3 linked regions of the Homo sapiens genome follow. The protein of the gene in region 2 interacts with the protein of the main gene of each other region in a biochemical or structural test. Each region holds a gene or a part of one and is shown on either strand. Other genes may lie near its edges.

Region 1 (7,029 bases), on a different chromosome or scaffold from region 2:
AACTTTAAAGGACAGGTTTTAAAGAAAGGGCTTTTCTTTCTTTCCAGGAAAGGAGAGTACTGGCTATCTGGACCTTGTGAAAAGATTTTTAGTACACTACTTAGCTTCTTGATTTCATGAAGAATTCATTTTGGTTTCTAATATACTGATATGGTTTGGATCTGTGTCCCCACACAAATCTCATGTTCAACTGTAATCCCCAACGTTGGAGGTGGGGCCTGGTGGGAGGCGACTGGATTATGGGGGTGTATCCTTCATGAATGGTTTAGCACGACCCCTTTGGTGCTGTTCTTGTGATAGAGTTCTCATGAGATCTGGCTGTTTAACAGTGTGTGGCACCTCCCCCATCTCTCTCTTGGTCCTGCTACTGCCATGTGAGACAGGTGGCTCCCCCTTTGCCTTCTGCCATGAGTAAAAGCTCCCGAGGACTCCGCAGAAGCAGATGCTGCCATGCTTTCTGTATAGCCCACAGAACTGTGAGCCAATTAAACCTCCTTTTTTTTTGAGACGGAGTTTCACTCTTGTTGCCCAGGCTGGAGTGCAATGGCGCGATCCCAGCTTCCTGCAACCTCCGCCTCCCGGGTTCAAGCGATTCTCCCGCCTCAGCCTCCCAAGTAGCTGGGATTACAGGCATGCACCACCAAGCCAGGCTAATTTTTGTATTTTTGGTAGAGATGGGGTTTCTCCATGTTGGTCAGGCTGGTCTCAAACTCCCGACCTCAGTGATCTGCGCATCTCGGCCTCCCAAAGTGCTGGGATTACAAGAGTGAGCCACCGCACCTGGCAAAACCCTTTTCTTTATAAATTATCCAGTCTCAGGTATTTCTTTATAGCAGTGCAAGAATGGACTGATACATATACTATACCTTCTTCTGTAAAGATAGTAACTCTTATTTCTATAACCTGTATAGTCTCTTCACTGAACTTTTACCTATATATATTCTTCATCAGTATTACTTTTTTTTTTTTTTTGAGACAGACTCTTGCTCTGTTGCCCAGGCTGGAGCACAGTGGTGTGATGTTGGCTCACTGCAACCTCTCCCTCCCAGGTTCAAGTGATTCTTGTGCCTCAGCCTCCCGAGTAGTTGGGACTATAGACACACACCACCCTGCCCTGCTAATTTTTGTATTATTGGTAGAAATCAGGTTTCACTATGTTGGCCAGGCTGTTCTTAAACTCCTGACCTCAAGTGATCCACCTTCCTTGGCCTCTCAAAGTGGATTACAGTCATGAGCCACTGCGCCTGGCCAGTATTACTTTTTCACTAGTGTTACAGCAACAGTTACTTTCACTTCTAAAAACATATAATCAAATGGCTTTATGGCACACTTATCTGCTTCCCTTCAGTTTTTTTCAGTGTTTTTGTTTTTGTTTTTTAAATATTTAGGTCCCCATCACGGACCTTCAAAGTAGAGTGAATACTGGGTCAAAATTTCTGTCCTTGAAGACAGACTATATGTTAAAGGAATAATATCATATACAGGATTAAGGCATTTCATAGAACTACTTGCCCATACATTCAATTTACAAAAAGGGACTCATTAAAACCTTAAATCTGAGACAGTTAATACAATCAAATTCAACAAAATGGCACTGCAACTATTTTAAAGGATAGCTATCCAGATAGAGAGAACCTAACAAATCAGACTTGTAACAGTCCTTATCATTTGGAATAGCTGAAAAAAAATCAACGCTAGGCAAGGGGAAGAACAAAAAGAGGTATGGCAATAATTTCAGCTATCTTGTGTCTCCAACACCTCACCCCACCAAACACACACCTCTCACACAATTCTACTTATCTTGGTCCCATTACTAGATTTACATCTCTATTGCTATTTGGTGAAGGAAGTGCAACCAATGGGACCCTCACCAGGCCAGGCACAGGTCCACAAACACTTTCTCAAGTAGCTCTTGAATTGTAAGGGGGCCTACCAAAAGAAAAGGGGACACTTCTCTAAAAAACTATTTCATTAAAGTTGTAATAACTTTAAAAAAATGTGGTTCTCTGGCATCCTGTTTTTATTTCTGCCTGGGACTCCAAAAATTTTAAATTAATGTCTCAGAGTTTTGTTTGCTTTAAAAAATTAATTTGTGGCCAGGAGCAGTGGCTCACACCTGTAATCCCAGCACTTTGGGAGGCTGAGGCGGGCGGATCACCTGAGGTTGGGAGTTCGAGACCAGCCTGACCAACATGGAGAAACTCCGTCTCTACTAAAAATACAAAATTATCTGGGCGTGGTGGTACATGCCCTATAATCCCAGCTGCTCAGAAGGCTGAGGCAGGAGAATGGCTTGAACCCGGGAGGTGGAGGTTGTGGTGAGCCGAGATTGCGCCACTGCACTCCAGCCTGGGCAACAAAAGTGAAACTCCTTCTCAAAAAAAAACAAATAATAATAATAATAATTTTTTTTTAAGATTGAGTCTTGACATCCAAGTGATAACATGACAAATACCCAACACTTTTGACAACTGTGCCTTTATCCCCAGTTTTTGGAGTACTTACAAGGAACCAGTTAACTGTCTGTTTTTGCTTCTTTAATCTTCGTAACAACAATGAAATATGTATTATTGTTCCTTTTCTACAGATGAAAAAACTGAGGAATACAGGGGCCAATGTGTCTCTAGCCTCATTTAATAAGAGGTGGATCTGAGATCTGAACACAGGCAATTGGATCTAGAATCTATGTTCTTTACCATGAAACTATGTTGCTTCCTGTCTAAATACATGCATTAAACAAATGGTAAATTATAAGCAGATAATTTCTACTTAATGGTTCAAATGGTAAATTATAAGCAGATAATTTCTACTAAAAATACAAAAATTAGCCAGGCGTGGTGGTGGGTGCCTGTAATCCCAGCTACTTGGGAGGCTGAGGCAGGAGAATTGCTTGAACCCGGGAGGCGGAGGTTGCAGTCAGTCAAGATCACACCATTGCACTCCAGCCTGGGCAACAAGAGCGAAACTCCCTCTCAAAAAAAAAAAAAAAAAAAAAAATCACACACCACATTTCACCACACAAATACCAAAACTAACATTGCTTGTCTATTTCTGGACACTCAACATACTTTTATATGTAACTCTTGTTACAGTGTATATGCCTTTTTTCTTTTTTCTGCTTTTCTCAAGCACAGTATTTTCCTATTTTCACAATATTTGTAAAGATCAATACTTTTTTTTTTTTGGAGACAAAGTCTCCCTCTGTCACCCAGGCTAGAGTGCAATGGTACCATCTTGACTCACTGCAACCTCCGTCTCCCGGGTTCAAGTGATTCTCCCGCCTCAGCCTCCTGAGTAGTTGGGACTACAGGCACGCACCATCACACCTGGCTAATTTTTTGTATTTTTAGTAAAGATGGGGTTTTGCCATGTTGGCCAAGCTGGTCTCGAACTCCTGGTCTCAAGTCATCTGCCCATCTCAGCCTCATAAAGTTCTGGGATTACAGGCATGAACCACTATGCCTGGCCAGGGTCAATACTCTTTTAAATGCATGTGCTGGAACCGATCTATTTTTTCCTCTACTGTAAGTAACCTCCAATTTTCAGAACTAAATCACAATGTCACAAATGTACTTGTATACAAAGTTTTTTCAGCATTTGGGATTGTTTTCTTAGTATAAATAAATGAAACTAGAATTATTGGGTGAATGGGCATGGATGATTAAGTCTCTTAACACATACTGGCAGACTGGGCTCTACAAATCTATACCTCTACTTGAAGAATATGAGTGTTCATTTCAATGTACCTCATTAGTGTTTTGTCTTCTTTTAAAAATATCTTTGTTAATTAAAAAGGTAAAAAATAGGAACGTAACATTCATTTATTTATTCTTTGGTTCCCCTGTGTCCATTCATCTATTGGGATCTGAATTTTTTTCTGATTTTTGTACTTCATATTTTAAACATATTAATCCATTACCATATTTGATTTTTCTCTTAAACAACTGATTTCATTTTCACAAAAGTACATCCAGTGAACTCTTTTATCACCTTTCAGAGTACAGCAGTGAGATCTGATAAATATTCTTGTTTTTGAGACGGAGTCTCGCTCTGTCCCCCAGGCTGGCCAGGCTGGAGTGCAGTGGCGCAATCTCAGCTCACTGCAACCTCCGCCTCCTGGGTTCAAGCGATTCTCCTGCCTCGGCCTCCCAAAGTGCTGGGATTACAGGCGTGAGCCACCGTGCCAGGCCATAAATACTTGTTTTTGTTTTCCTTTATAAATTCTAGATTATTTGGCTGGGCACGGTGGCTCATGCCTGTAATCCCAGCGCTTTGGGAGGCCGAGGCAGGTGGATCATAAGGTCAGGCGTTCGAGACCAGCCTGGCCAACATGGCGAAACCCAGTCTCTACTAAAAATACAAAAATTAGCTAGGCGTGGTGGCGGGTGCCTGTAATCCCAGCTACAAGGGAGGCTGAGGCAGGAGAATTGCTTGAACCCGGGAGGTGGAGGTTTCAATGAGCCAAGATTGCACCACTGCAGTCTAGCCTGGGCGACAGAGTGAGACTCCATCTCAAAAAAAAAAAAAAAAAAAAAAAATCTAGATTATTGTAACGCAACTGTGATTTCATCTGGGAATAATGTTGAAGGGTTGTACAATTTCAAATCAACACATTAAGACAACAACTACATCACTCAGTTCATTGATACAGAAACCTAAAGACAAGAGCTGGTAAAATATTTACCTATATTTTGTTCTTCAAGAACCTAACGTCTATGTTTACAGCATAGGCATTTGTCTAAAGGGCTGGTCTATTTCCTATTCTGCAATAGTATCTATCTTTTTCCATTCATGAATCTCAAGGTTGGAAGAGATGTTAATTGTGCTCTACTTTATGCTCTAAAAAAACATTCATACCAGTGTCCATCTTCTTTTTTTTTTTTGAGACAGAGTCTCGCTCTGTTGCCCAGGCTGGAGTGCAGTGGCACAATCTCTGCTCACTGAAACCTCTGCCTCCCGGGTTCACACCATTCTCCTGCCTCAGCCTCCCGAGTAGCTGGGACTACAGGCACCTGCCACCATGCCCAGCTAATTTTTTTGTATTTTTAGTAGAGACGGGGTTTCACCATGTTAGCCAGGATGGTCTCGATCTGCTGACCTTGTGATCTGCCCGCCTCGGCCTCCCAAAGTGCTGAGATTACAGGCATGAGCCACGGCACCAGGCCCAGTGTTCATCTTCTAACCTATGCTAGAGTAGCACAACTGACAGACTAGTCACTACACCAAGGAATACTTTTGCTTGAAAAATCCAACTCGTTTTCAGTTCTCAAGGTCCATTTCAGATTAAGAAGAATTGCTATCTCTTCTTAAAAGAAACATAAGTAATCTTTTCAAAAATAAATAACTCTAAAAAGACAAAAGACACGGTTGCTTTATCTTGATATCAAATACCCACTGTTACCTTTTGAAATAGTTAGTGCTGGAGACCACTGTGATCGTAGAATATCAAGACAAATGCTGCCATTACTGTTAATATTTGGATGATAAATTCTTGTTGTAAATGCAACCTACAGAAAGAAAGGAAACTTTCTGTAAACTAGTTTATTAGTATTATAGAAAGTACATTAAAAACTGCCACATTCCAATTAATTACCTTAGGTGGTTTGAAGGGGTAATCTGTTGGGAAATGAATTGTCAAGAAAAATACTCCACCCTGATAGGGACTGTCATTCTGTTGATAACAAGAAAAGTGGGATTAAAATGAGTAAATTACATAAACTGTTTATTCTGAAATTAATCTGAATACTTACTGGCCCCATTATTGTAGCTTGCCAATGGAACACTGAAAAATAACAAGAAAAAAGTCACCATGTAACAATATCTACATTGTATCTACGCCATAGTAACATATCATTCCCCTTCTAATCCAAATTCATTTATAAATAATATGATAATGAGTATGAGCAAGATGAGGAACATAAATTAACAGTCTAAAGAAACAAGAAAAATGACTAGAATGGCCTAGAACACTGATAAGGTGCTCAATGAAAAATATTTAGAGCCAGGTGTGGTGGCTCACACCTGTAATCCCAACACTTCCAGAAGCTGAGGTGAGAGGACTGCTTGAGCCTGAGAAGTGGAGGCTGCAATGAGCCATGACTGCGCCACTGCAAGACTCTCTCAAAAACAAAAACAAAAAAAACCGAAAGTATTTGGGCTAAAACTTCTTGAAACTTCATGTCAGGTAGACAAACTTCTTGACAAGGCTTACAGTTCTACTTTTAAACAGTTATTTCTTTACCTCACAGGGTAAATCATTTCTTCAAAACAATTACATATAATACACTTTTTTTTTTTTTTTTTTTTGAGACAGAGTCTCACTCTATCGCCCAGGCTGGAGTGCGCTGGCGCAATTTCGGCTCATTGCAACCCCCGCCTCCCGGGTTCAAGCAATTCTCCTGCCTCAGCCTCCCAAGTAGCTGGGACTACAGGCAAGTGCCACCACACCTGGCTAATTTTTGTATTTTTAGTAGAGACAAGGTTTTGCCACGTTTGGCCAGGTCTCAAACTCCTGACCTCAGATGATCCACCCACCTCAGCCTCCCAAAGCTGGAATTACAGGCATGACTCCTTTTATAATGCTGGTATACGGGGGACAAAACAGTAAAGTCAAGGTAGATAATACTCAAATTAAGAAAGACTGGTTTTAACAAGGAGAAAAAATTTCTAAAAACTCTTGTGTAGGTCTGTACATTACTGGCCCTCATTAAAGAAAGAAAAACATCTCTCCTAATGTAAAGGATAAGTTAAAGAGGAAAAAAGAGAAAAAAGGAGTAAAATTTAAGAAGAAAATATTAGCTGAAAGCCCAAGGTTGATTACAAGCTCCAGGGATACTTCTAATAAGTTATAAACTTGTTCAATAAATAAATATCTTCCAAATGCAGAAAATGATGCTTGTTCCATGTTCTCATGCTACTAAGTGCATCATGAGAGATCAAAAGCCAGAGTTTTTACTTATAATTAAGCTACTACTTAGCACACTTACCATTCATACTATGATCTGAGCAACCTAAGGGAAGTTGTCACTG
Region 2 (6,878 bases):
AAGTTTCACCAACCCATTTTACAGATGACAAAACTGTGGCTTACCAAGATTAATAAGGCCAGAATTAAAATTAGGGTCTAATTCCAAAGATATTACCACTATACATACCAAGATGTCTTGTTACTACATTTTATCCTTACATTTGGCAGTGAGGGGAAAACTCAAAAAGCAGTCAAAAAACTTTTGTCCTGAACCAACATAAAAAGAGCACCTAAGACTTCATCCAGTATTTTACCGAAAGATCACTTCTAAAAGTTTGTCTTCACCCCGATCTAAAAATTAGAAAACTAATTTTCTTTCAGCAGCTGCATATGTACATAATGTAATGTTTCTACATTTAGACCTACACAATTATAAGTCTAAACAAAATATGTGTAACATGATTGGAGAACATAACTAGCAGTCATTTAAGAAAATGGACATTTGGAAACATCATTTCAAGAGCTTGGGATGAAAAATTTTGCTATGACCTATAAATCTGGATCATTCCACTGACTGACACTGAGAGAAACAGTGTATTATCACAGTTTACACAGTAAATTTTTTTGGAGGGGAGAGGGAGGAGATTGAAATAGAAATGATCGAAATAGAAATTATCTAAAGTTTAAGAAATACAACTGATTAAATGTTACATGTCAAAGACACTGTAGGTACCCAATAAATCCTGTTAAATGGACTGCACAAGTGGGATGAGAACACGTTTTCCCCACACCTCTGACTAGTATGTACCTTTCTTAGGAAGTTATTTTTTCAGCCATGGGAAAAAAAAGGGCAGAATTTAGGACAGATAAAACATAAGTAGCTTATAAATCCTCTGAAAGGAAATCAAAACACAGTATTTTGTATCTCTGTATAAAGTTAAGCTCCTCAGGGACAGGGGCAATGTCCAGAGGATAGTGAGCATACTACTTAGCAAACTAATGCAGGTTAATAAATATTGACACAGTAAGACTAGCATAGTTTACATTCTAATTTTGTAAAGATTATAAGTTACCTCTTCATATTCTGTTCTTTTATTTCTCCTGTGTATATTATAAATACACAAAGATTGAAAATTATTTCTTGAAGCTATTTCCTTTTTTATTTTTTGGTCAACTGTATTAGTGTTTCTTAAAAGGGCTTCTGGTCATCCTTAGGGCTTATCAGTAGCATCATTAATAATGTATTCATTTCACTAAAAATGTGGTAAGTAGCTTGGATTTAAAAACAGGATCTAATTTCAAAGCTATTTCCACTATACACACCAAGTTACAACTTTCTTATCTCTCCTAAATTCTAAATTTTACATGATTTACCAAATCACTTCTTAAGTAAGAGTACTTATTGATCAGAAGTGTGAGACAAACACCTTATCCCACTTGTCCAATTTATTCAACAAGATTGATTGGGTACCTTTGTGTCTCTGACAGGTAACTTTCAACAGTTGTATTTCTTAAACTTTAGGTCGTCTCCCAAAAAAAACTGTAATAATTTGCTGCTTCTCTCAATATTGCAGGCAGTAAAATGATCCAAAATTACGGGTCATATCCACATTTCTTCATGATTGAGGTTAACTGTGCACTGTAAACCCCATATGCTATTAGTTTACATTTTCAACAGCACCCTCGCCACTTAATAATCTCAAACAGATTTTGGACTGTTACTAATTTAGCATATCCATAAAAAGTCATTTAAAAAATGTAGACGCTAAATTCTCTTTCAAGGTTGCCAAGCTTCACCAGTGTCTGTATTAAAATTATTTCTAAAATTTTACGGACTAAGGCATTTGGTACATTCAATTCTACCTTTACCAACAAAAGCCTTTACCACCAAGATGAGGAAAGCATCCTTTTCATTTTCTACACTGAAAAGGGGGGGGAAAAAAGGCCAACTGCTTGCATACAGGTCTGCATATAACACAGCAGTCTCTGGCAAAGCCAATAACTCACGTTCAACTTCAGAAATCCTGGTGGCCGGTAACACAGAGTAACCTGTGCGCACAACCCTTGGGCTTGACATACCACTTCATCCGCCCTCCCTTCCCATCAATCCACCCCCAAAACCCCAACCCACCAAGCACACGGCTAAATATGTCTTCCCCAAGAGAGCCAAAAACCTTGAAAACGCCGAGAAAGGGCTCCCCTTTGAAGGAAAGGGCCTGCCCTTCCCTGTCTGGGGCCCCGGCTGGCTCGAAGAGCCTGGCTCCTAGGAGGCCCAAATCTCGACGCCTCGCACGTCCCGCCCCGCCCCGGGCCCGCTCGCGTCCCCTCGGGCGACAAAACCCTCCCGCCGTCGCTCAGCCAGGACTGACAGTTACGGCTGCAGCAGCCGCGGCCACCAGGGGCCTACTTCTGGCACCAGCCCCTTCGGACCACGCGCCCCCAAACACTCGCCTCGGCGGCGGGGGGCGGGGAAGGGGGGTGTCGACCTCGCCACAGCGGGCCCCGAAGGCCGGCCGAGTGACGGAGGGGAGCCAGCGCCGCCTGGCGCAGGCCGCGGCAACACTGACCTGTCGTCGCCCCCGCGCCTGGGCTGCGGCGGCCGCCTCACTGGTCGTAGTCGCCCTCGCCCGCCGCCTCCGCCCGCCACCGCCTCGTTCTCTTTCGCTGCCGCCACCGCCGGGGCTCATGCGGGACCCGCGCTTCCTTATCCGGAAAACGAGGCCGGGAAAGGGAGCGCCGGGGCCGCCGAAATCCCGGCGTTCGTCGCCAGCCGCCGCTGCCTGTCCACACCGGGGGGCTGAGGGGCCCTCCTGCCAGGGGCTACAGGCCGCGAGCTATTCCGAGGAGGAGCCGAAGGAGGCGCCGCCGCCCGCAGCCGAGCGCGCCGGGTCGGCAGAGGTGAAGCGTAAGTAGGCGGCGGATGGCGGGCGCCCGCGCTGGCGGATGGCTACGCGGCGGAGGGGTGCGCGAGCGAGCGAAGCCTGGTGTGTCGGGTCCTGGCGAAGGGAAAAGGCCCCGTCGTCTCCTGTAGTCACCCCGAGCCCAGCGCCACCATCTTGGGAGACACACGGATCTCGCGGCCGCGGCGCAAGACGGGAGGACTGGCTGGGCGGGCCGAGTATCCCGGCAGGCAGCGCGCGCCGCCCGGCCGGGCGAGGGCTCCAGGCCGGGACGCGGGGACGTGGGGCGGGGCCAAGACGCGCGGGAGGGCGCCGCGCTCCGCCCCTCCTTCCTTCGCCGGCCCCGCCTCCCTCCCGCTTGCCGTCGCCGCCGGCGCACGGGCCATTGGGAAGAGGAGGTGGCCTGCGGCCCCTCGGAGTCCCACCAGGCTCGGTCGCCATCTTGCGACTGGACAGAAAGGGTAATCCCTCTTTTTAGTTTCTGCTGTCTGTGACCCGAAAGAATAAACCTGGGACTTCCGGAAGCCCTCTGGGCACCCCCCCCCCCAGGAGGGTTGCAGAGCCCCTTGGTGTACCCAGCAGAGGAACGCCTCAGACTTTGTTGGGAAACGAATGGCTCTGAAAGTTAGCTGAAGCCGCTGGAATAGCCCCCCAGCCCCGAGGCGGGGCAGGTGCCTGCCGTTATTGGCTTTTCGACCCCAACCCTTTTCTATCTGGAGCTGCCTTTGTAGATGTTGCAGGGGTGCCCCGAGAGTGCAGGCCAGATTTTAGAGGACCAAGGTCATCTACTTAGGCCTCTTGCCAACACAGGATGTGTCAACTAGTTTACCAGAGACGAAGGTAAAGTCCCGTCTCCTGCAGTTGTTGACGTTCAGTAGGTCGTCGGTTAAGAAAAGTGGCTCCCTGGTTGACCCCAGCTGGATAGAGGCTAATTTTGATCCATATGACAGCTGAACGTAGTTAAAGCCATTAAAATTAAATCCATTTAAAGTCATATTTGGTACCAGGGTCACCATTTTAAAAGGTGTGTGTGTGTATGTGTGTGTGTGTGTGTGTGTGTGTGTATAGCTTTACAACACTTGCTAGCAAAGCCAAAAGAGTATCACTAACAATTCATAGTGTTACAACTTGCAACTTTGTTGATAAGCCCTTGAAGTACTAGATGAGTACCCATGTCTAGTATTCAGATTTTTTATATCAACAGTCGTACATAGCAGTGTATCTTTTTTAAATTTATTTTTATTTTTAAACTTAGAAATGGTGTCTTGCTATGTTAGGCCCAGGCTGGTCTCGAGCTCCTGGCCTCAAGTGATCCTCCCACCTCGGCCTCCCAAAGTTTTGGGACTACAGGCATGAGCCACAGTGCTCGGCCAGCAGTGTAATTTTTAACTGTCAGTCTCGGAACATCTTTTTTGTATAGCCAAGTGTGTGGGTGTGTGTGTGTATCCGCCTCACAACTATAACCAACCATTGAAAAACCAACAATAAGCTAGAAGAATTTAAGTTATTCCAGGACAACTGATGATAATGATAGTATTAAGCCATATTCGATTTTAAGATGTTTTAACTCAGCTCTTTACTCACTTTTCATTTCCTCTCATTACACATCCACATTTGGAAACTATTTGCTGTTATATTTCATGGAAAGGACTAGTAAGAATTATAATCTTTAAAAAAATTTATCTTCGCAAGTTTTCAAAATAGGCAACAAAGAATGTAAATCTTTAAGGACTTTATTGTTGGACTAATTAAAGCATACCATTTCTACTATATCTAGCATATGGAGATACTTATAGGTATTCTTCCTTTTAAGTAGAAATTGACAATAAATTAAGTGTAATTTTATAATGGCCTGGTGTATCAAAGTGTGGCGGAAATCCCTGAGTTCCAAAAAGATTAAAGACCGAAGGGAAATAAGTCTGCTTTTAGCTAGATGTCAGAATGACTATTCATTGCTTTACTGAGATCAAGGAGGATCTTAATTCCTCCTGGAGAAATTACGTATATCCGTTTTAGTTCATTAATTTTAAATCTGTATTCTTATGTGTGACATTAGTATTAGAATTCTTTCAAGATTTCACTGTGCTTTTTGTTTTATCCATTTTCAAATTTAGAAATGTTTGCTCATCAAACTTACCAACATAAATACTTTCAGGAATCCTTAAGATACTAGCAGTGTTCCACTTCCCTATACACCTGTTTATATGAAAAATAAAAAAATTCTCCCATATCAGACCCATGTGTTTTTTTTTTTTTAGGTGTGTTTTTCCCAGAAAAACAACTTTGTATCTACTAAGTGAACAGTGATTTCTTCAGACTTTTCTAGTCCAAATGAGACCCAGTAGTTTCTAATAATTTTCTCATTTCAGGTATACAGTAAAAAGAGCAATTTAATTTTATAAGCATCTGCATCAATGCCTTGAGCAAACTTTGAGCTAATGTTTACCCAGAACTATTTATGTGTCATATGTTGGACTACTTGAACTACTATTTATGTGCCAGACCTTGGGAAACAATAAAAGATGAACAATCTCTATCCCTGCCCTCAAGAACTTGCAGTTCCAGAGGAAGTCACACCTGTAAGATTGGACACTTTTTCAGAGTAACCCAACACTTCATTGAGCATGGGGGGTACCTAGTAATATGTATCTGCTAATACTAACAAACTTTTTATTTTATTATTATTATTATTTTTTTGAGACAGAGTCTTGCTCCGTCGCCCATGCTGGAGTGCAGTGGCGCAATCTTGGCTCATTGCAAGCTCCACCTCCCAGGTTCATGCCATTCTCCTGCCTCAGCCTCCCAAGTAGCTGGGACTACAGGCACCCGCCACCACGCCTGGCTAATTTTTTGTATTTTTAGTAGAGACGGGGTTTCACCGTGTTAGCCAGGATGGGCTCGATCTCCTGACCTCGTGATCCGCCCGCCTCGGCCTCCCAAAGTGCTGGGATTACAGGCATGATCCACCATGCCCAGCCAACAAACTTTTTTTTAAAGGAAACATTTTGCCCTAAATTGCTGGTGAAGTTGTTTTTTGACAGAGCTGTTTTATTGCTGAAGATTTCTTATTGATGCCAGTCATAACAGATGAATCAAAATGCAAGAACAACTTTTTTTACTACTCAGCATGCCCCAGGATCAGAAATAAGTCGAGCATGGAAGAGACAAAATTCAGATATGGTGGGATAGAAGTCACGGTTGCTATTTTTAGGCCACATCCAAATGTTACACACTCAACTTCTGAAAAACACTAAGCTTTCAATATATGAATAGCTCCCATTATTTAAGAAATACTGTTAAGCAAACTTAGCTCCATGAAGAACACTGGCATATGATAAGTGCTCAGTAAATGTTAGTGCTTAGTAGTGGTAGTAGTAGTAGTATATGTATCATTGTTTAGTACTGCACACATCAGGCATGAACTCCTACATACCCCCACCCTTATGCCTGCAGACCTGTCTAAATTTGCATTCTTTCTGACCTCGAGTCTTAAGGTAGAAGCCATCCTTCTGTCCTTTCTACAGGTAATTTTTATTTCTTGAGGGAAGAGAGATTGACTCAAGACTCTTACTCCCTTAAATATTCCCACTCCTGTTCATAAATTCTCCCTCTACTTTGTCCCTTCTATTTAGAAAAGCTGTCTATACTTAGATTGCTATTACCTTCCAAATTCCTCTTCAACTACAGAAATTTAGCAGCTCCCTCCATTTTACTGTATACATTGCTTGTATCAATTTCACTGTGGCATAATGGCCAAATTGAAAGGTTGCTTCTCAGTTTTCATAACATCTGATCTCTCTGCAGCCTTCCACACTGCTGACCACTGCCTCCTGGAAACTGCTCCCTTGGTTCTGTCACCTTACATTCTCTGCTCTTCTGCCTTGTCTTAGGCCACTCTTTCTCAGGTCTCCTGTGCAGAATCCTCCCTCCCCATTCTTGGTTCTCTGCCTACCATGTTATAATCTTTGACAGTACCATTTACGTATACTCTTCTATCACTTATTTCAGTCAGGAATCAAGTCTGAATCTTGAACACAGATCTCAGTCAGAAGCATCA
Region 3 (7,029 bases), on a different chromosome or scaffold from region 2:
TTAAAAATTTGGACTAGGGGTAAGTTTCAAAAAGGTTCCTTTCTCAACAGGGTGTCCTTGCAAAGATAATTTAATGTTTGGCAAACTGAGGGAAAAAAATTCTCAACTGCACCAAACTATTACTCAATGCTCCAGAATGAACACGATATGGAAAACTAATGTTTTCCTTAGTATTTATTTCCGCATAACCATCCACCGTTAGTCTGTATCTCATTATTCGTACGTAGTGTGAATCCAGTACTATTTTTCAAGTTACATGGCCTGAGAAAATGATTCTATCCCACAGCAAGACTATTTACTGGACTGGAAATCAATTTCCAACGACACCCATACTCAGCATTTTTAAAAGTAATTTTGTCTACGATAGTCACCTAACAAAATGTTTTTAGAGCCTAAAGTTTCACAGGCTTCAGGGACAAAAACACTAAAAAATTACACAATTGAAATTTTCAGCTTATTCCTTCCTAGCAGTCTAGAGGAAGAGGAACAGTGCCAAGAACCAGAAGGAACAGCTCTCACACGGCACCTGTAAAATTTTTTTATACTGTGCTGACTACCCCTCACCTAAGGGGAACAGCATTACTCAACTATTAAGGCCACTGAAACAGGAAAATGTTTGGTTGGGGACACTGACTTACTTTAGGAATTGCTCAAGGTTCCACTCACGTTGAAGGGACACTAAGATCAAGCACATACAATCAGGGTACAACACTAAGAAACTGTACTAGCTATAAAAAGAACAAAAGGTTGGACATTTCTTTTCCACAGAGTGCTCTTTTAGGAAACTTTCTCCTTTTAGTGTCATCTTCCTCTGAGCTGCTTCTCCTCAAACTTTCTGCACACTTGGCTAGTGTGAGAATCCAGACCTTCTCACTGGAAAAAATACTTGTATTTAAAAGCCTTAAAAAACCTATAGGAAAAGAAGTCAAGGAGACCCCTCTGCCTTCTTTCTAAGCTAGGTAAATGAGACCCTCTCAAAGCTCTCACATGGTCTAGTTCGCCTCATTAGTTAAAACACTACAAAGAAATTTGAGACAGCAACAGACTTTACACAACTGAGTTGTTTGCCTATTTCCTGAAGACCTGGTGGGCACCATGGTAGAAAATAGGGCAGGATTTTTTTCACCAAAAAAATCTCTCTAAAAGGCAACCAACAGGTACAGCTTAAGCCACTGGTGAGTGTTCTCATCTGGAAGTACATGATTTAAGCAGTAATGGGTTTGGTCACTATTTTTTTTTTTATTCTGAAACATTCCTTACATGAGATTTTTAATACAAAGCCTGCAAATGGTTTATCTTGAGGAAGACCTTTACTGTAGTCACTATGGGATATGGGATTTAACAGTTGATTGTTGGAGATGTTAAACTATGCTTTCTGCTTCTCTATTCTCTATCTTCCTCATTCAATGATAAGTGGTACTAGCAGTGGTGACCAACCACAGGCTACAAAGAACAGTAGGCCAAGGTATTGAAAACATTAAAGACCTGAAAGGATGCTAGGAGAAACATAAGAATGTCCCCTCCCTTGCTGGGCGTGGTGGCTCACGCTTGTAATCCTAGCACTTTGGGAAGCCAAGGCAGGCGGATCACCTGAGGTCAGGAATTCAAGACCAGCCTGGCCAACATCGTGAAATCCCATCTCTACTAAAATATAAAAATTAGCCGGGCATGATGGCGGGTGCCTGTAATCCCAGCTACTCGAGAGGCTGAGACAGGAGAATTGCTTGAACCCAGGAGACGGTGGTTGCAGTAAGCCGCAGTTGCGCCACTGCACTCTAGCCTGGGCAGCTGACCAAGACTCCGCCTCAAAAAAAAAAAAAAAAATTCCCTCCTTTCAAAGAGCTTATAAATTGGAAATACTAAAAATATTTATTCACAAATATTTATGAATATTATGAATATTCATGAAGCTACAGAGCAGCCATGTTCCAGGAGCCCAATAAGTATCTGAACATTCGGTTAACTTTCTTTCAATGACAGCCAGTATCTGTTCATCAGATCAACATAACCAAAAGGTAGCATTTATGAAAACAAGGTTTTAAGTGTCAACCCTATTAAAGCGTAACGCCATAAATAACTTATTCTAGGTTTCATCCCCCCAAGGCTTGTCAAAATTCAAAAGCCTATATAGTGGCAAGGCCAAGTTCATGGATTCTACCTTTAAGACAGTAAAATTATCACCACGATGTTCCACAAATCATTTGTTATCCCAATCTCTACCATCTATTTTGCACGTCATCACACAAAGGTCATACAGAGGACAGAACGCAGTAGTATAGATACATTTCCTCTCAGCACTTTCCGGAAAACTAAAAGCTTATGCCATTACTAAAGGTTAATTTCTTGTATTCTATTTGAGAGTCTATTTCTTTCAGAACTAAAGACAAGATTTACATGACTCAAAAGACAAGATTTGTATGACTGTGAATCAGCATTATAAAAACAGCCCTTGCCTCAAAAACCTATACTGAGCAACACAAAACACTGCTTTGGGGACTGGAAGAGATGATAAAATGAGGTGGGAAACAAAGGGAGTAAGTGCCTTAAGAAATTTTAAGAATCATCCTCAAGAAGACTTTACAACCAACCTAGAAAAATACAAAGGTGCGAACCAACAATAGAGGTCGAAGTGCAGTGCAATTAGCTGTCCATCAGGCAGACAGTAACTACTGTAACTGTTCATATAAAGATCTGGTTTACTATAAAGTTTTATTAACTTTAATGTTATGAAATGTCTGTATAAAATATGTAGATGCGAATATCAAGGCAGGGAACAACAAACTTCAGAAACATGGTTATTTCAAGAGAAGGATGCTTGGCAAAAAGATATGAACAATTTCACAAAACTCCAAATAGTCCCTTTAAAACACATTTTAATTTGAAATTTCTTCTGAGAAATCCTTTTTTATCTTAAGGTTTAACAGTAGGCACTGCACAGTATCTCACTGCATCACTGACAAGGTATTAACTTCCTGTTTAGTCGTAATTATAGGTGAAACAAGCATGCGTGTTCATTACACAAGGTACTAAGAATGGATTGAATATTACTAATTTTCTTTCGATCACCACTGAAGGTAAAGTCACTTAACATTATTCAAAGCCATTCTTTTGTAAGCATTATTTAAAAATGGGCAAAGAAACCCAAATTTAGATTTGAAGCTCTGCTCCATGAAAGCAAGAAGGGTGTTTTATGGACATTAAAACAAACAAAACAAACAAACAAACAAAAAAAACAAAGATTAACAGCCAAACAGCTGCCCAGTAGTAGAAAACATTCAATTACACATTAGCCATGAAATTACAGCAAGGTTAGGATTAATGTAAGTATTTCATACTGAAAAAGGTACAAGAAATCATGATTCACAATTGACAAACATTTAAATACGACAAATTCAGCTATGAAAAGTTGAAGGTCTCTTTTACAATAGATTATGTTGAAAGTATCATTAGGAGATAAAAATCAGATGTTTCAACAAAGTATAAAAATACTTCCCTAAACTTTTCCCTTCCCTACATAACAAGGTTGAGGATACAATTCTGAATAAATCTTATCTAATAAGAGAAACTGGGCAGTAAGATATTTGGTGAATGCATTCATTTTTAATTATGAAATAACACTGCTATGGTAGCAAGCTCAAGACCACAACATTTCCAAGAATGGAGAGTTTTATTTCATTAATTTCAAAATACTGGTTTTGGCAAGGGGAATTAAGTCATTATAATAAAAGACAAATCACATTGTAATAATACTAGTACAAAAAATACAGTATAGAAAATTTATTTTAAATACCTCCCCTACTAGATCTAATATTCTTGAAAGGTAAATTACAAAGTGACAAACAACTATTCATGTGTTTACATGCTTATTTTCACCACTGAACGCAGAGATTACCATAGATAAGGACCATCTTCCTCATTTATTCCCTGGGACTAGAATACTACGTCTAATGCAGATTAGGACCTTTACTCCCTTGTATCTGTGGTTCTTAATCAGAGAGGAGCTTCAGAATCACCTAGAAAATTTTCAAAATTATGTGTTTCCAGGGAAAATGATTTAGTAAGTCTAAGACCCCCATGCAGCTGTATTTTTTTTTTTAAATTCTAAACAATCTGACATTTAAAAATAAGTAAACAAGTATAACTGGATTGTAACACAAAGGATAAATGCTCGAGGTATATACCCCATTTACCCTGATGTGATTATGCATTGCATACCTGTATCAAAATATTTCATGCAACCCATAAATATATACACCAACTATGTACCCACAAAATTTTTTTAAAAACTCCAAATGTTCTGGAATATAAATGTAATTCATGTCACACCCAACAATATATAATATTCAGTAAGCTCTTCTATACGCTAACAGATACAAGAAAACTGCTATTTAAAAAAAGAATGCAAAAACCAACCTAGGTTTGAGATTTTAATCTGAAACATTTTTTTATCTCAGTGTTACGAACCTAGTTTCTTTTTTAATAGATAGATTATAGCAACATGCTGTGGAGAATCCTCAAAGATTGCCTGTCTTGGATAAAAAGGGTCACCTAAACTCAGGGGCAAAGTTTGACAGAGCAATCTAGTGACACAGTAGTTCATCCCAGTGATGGAGCATTCAACTTTTTATTTGTATAAATAACAAAAACTAGAATCAACACTGCAGATGAGCATGATGAAAGAAAAGTATGCAGTGTCAGTAATGCATCCTTTTTCAAATTAAACAAATACTGAGGTCCTATTATTATCAGCATCCTTCAGTCACAACTATCCTACACAGAAAGTGAGCTGGCTATCAACAAGCTTTGAGGACCATATATGAAACACATGCAAGACAGTTTACCCAGCCTATATACTAGTTGGGGACAATAAATATATTTTGTTCACTCTAAGACATCCTAAGCAGTTAACTGGCACATGTTAGTTTTCAGTGCTTGAAGAGACTACCCCAAAAGAATTAAATCCACTTCTACTTTCAAAATATTATTAGCCAAAATCTTAACTCACAAATTAGCTATAACCTAAGAGTAAAGCTAACTCCCAATTACTTAGATGTATAAGTGGGAGAGCAAAGCAGCTTATTTCAGGTAACAAACTAAAATCACATACATTATAAAACAGGAATTGAAGGGCCAGGCCACGTGGTGGCTCACGCCTGTAATCCCAGCACTTTGGGAGGCTGAGGCGGGTGGATCACGAGGTCAGGAGATCAAGACCATCCTGGTTAACACGGTGAAACCCTGCCTCTACTAAAAAAACAAAAAAATTAGCCGGGGGTGGTGGTGGGCGCCTGTAGTCCCAGCTACTCAGGAGGCTGAGGCAGGAGAATGGCGTGAACCCAGAAGGCAGAGCTTGCAGTGAGCTGAGATCGCGCCACTGCACTCCAGCCTGGGTAACACAGTGAGACTCCGTCTCCAACAACAACAAAAAAAGGAATTGAAATGGTTCAAAAAAGAGCTTGAGCTTTTGGTGCCTATCTGATTTGAATCCCAGTCACTTACTAGTTGTGTGACTAGACGACTATTTCTCTGAGCCTGTTACTTCATCTATAAAATTCTCACATCTATCCCACATGGTTGTCTTGAGGATTAAATGAGTTAGGGTTTAGATGAGACTGCATTGTCTTAACTACTGTAATAGATAATACTATATGCAAAAGTAAACCGTTCTGAATGACAAAAAAAAACTAAAGGATGATATCAAACTGTAGTTGTTAAGAGCACATACTCTGGACCAGGCTGCCTAGGTTCTAATCCCAACTGTCACAACATGAACCTGGGTCATCTTCTTAACCTCTATGCCTAAGTTTTTCAATTTCGAGATGGAGATAATCTTGAAATTATCTCAGTGGAAGTGGTGGTAGGAGGGAAACGAAGATCAAATGAGAGTTTTTTAACCCTTTACCCATGGTTTCCCTGCTAGCCGCTTGCTTATAATCATATATAAACACTAAAGTCATACTTCCAGAAATAAAAACCCTTACGAAAACTTAACAGGGTGTATACAATGAAAACATGAGCTATTCTTTTAGGCTTGGTTCACATATTTATCTTCAAACGTCCCTAAAACACATATATTGTAGTCCCTGTTTAATGGGAGTGGTAAAATTGTCTACAGCTCTCAATACCAATCAACTTGGAGTGCCACTTTTAACTCCTGTTGTTTAATAGCCCTATTTAAGACCATATTACAGCTCGTTCAAATAAAGAATACAGGAAAAAAGTTGATTGGTCTAACAGTCAAAAAACTTACTCCAAGAACACAGCTGAAGCAAAGTATAAATTCAAAAGCTCGATCAAATGGACTAAAGGTTAAAACTATTCCAATAATCATTTCAGTAAAATATTAACGAGGAATACAGATATATCATAATACTTGAAATGTGGGACCTTCAGACAAGAATAAATTCGAAATAGGTACGTAACACAAGCATACCATACTGACATCAATGGCTACTTGACCCCATATTTCTAGAAGAGGTGCCTAAACCGAAGAGCATTCCAGTTCAGAGCTGTCCACTCACTAAAATTGTTGGATGTGGAATGTTTGAAAGTTGCCTCATGTGATTTTAACATTAACAGCTGAAAAACCAAACCACATGCACACGTCAAAGTTTCTGTAAGTTGAATCAATAATGTTCACATAAACACTGGTTTTTCCAATATGCCAAGTTTTTATGTTGTGTCTATATTACATAAATCTTCAAAATATTTACAAAAGGAGACAACCTGGTTAACTAAGAGTACTAAACTAGAAATCAAAGTTCTTAAACAAAAACGATTTTTAAAAATTATAAATTGTGATATTAAAATAGCAGTAATAACTAGGAGTGTCATGTGCCAAGAGCCTGTTCAAATTTGCACATTAATCCATTTAATCGTCAAAACAAATCTAGGAACTTAAAATTTGTTTTGTTCACTGCTGCCACCCCAATGTCTAAAACAGTGCCTGGTACATATTAGGCACACAGTCATTTATTGTTCATATTACAACAGATACCCTTCTTATAGAGGCACATAAACTTGCCCAGA

Evidence for each region.
Region 1: the proteins of UBE3A (region 2) and UBE2D2 form a complex in vitro, tested with the Homo sapiens proteins (12 studies listed by BioGRID, with this or other methods).
Region 3: the proteins of UBE3A (region 2) and UBE2D3 form a complex in vitro, tested with the Homo sapiens proteins (5 studies listed by BioGRID, with this or other methods).

Annotation. Positions count from the first base shown.
Region 1 is NC_000005.10:139,613,339-139,620,367, reverse strand, and holds part of UBE2D2 (ubiquitin-conjugating enzyme E2 D2), read right to left. Parts: intron 5,783-7,029; coding exon 5,751-5,782; intron 5,672-5,750; coding exon 5,594-5,671; intron 5,508-5,593; coding exon 5,402-5,507; intron 1-5,401.
Region 2 is NC_000015.10:25,436,001-25,442,878, forward strand, and holds the start of UBE3A (ubiquitin-protein ligase E3A), read right to left. Parts: upstream 3,025-6,878; 5' UTR 2,489-3,024; intron 2,325-2,488; exon of another isoform or gene 2,053-2,324; intron 1-2,052. UniProt on the Homo sapiens protein: E3 ubiquitin-protein ligase which accepts ubiquitin from an E2 ubiquitin-conjugating enzyme in the form of a thioester and transfers it to its substrates.
Region 3 is NC_000004.12:102,817,523-102,824,551, forward strand, and holds part of UBE2D3 (ubiquitin-conjugating enzyme E2 D3), read right to left. Parts: intron 1-7,029. UniProt on the Homo sapiens protein: Accepts ubiquitin from the E1 complex and catalyzes its covalent attachment to other proteins. In vitro catalyzes 'Lys-11'-, as well as 'Lys-48'-linked polyubiquitination.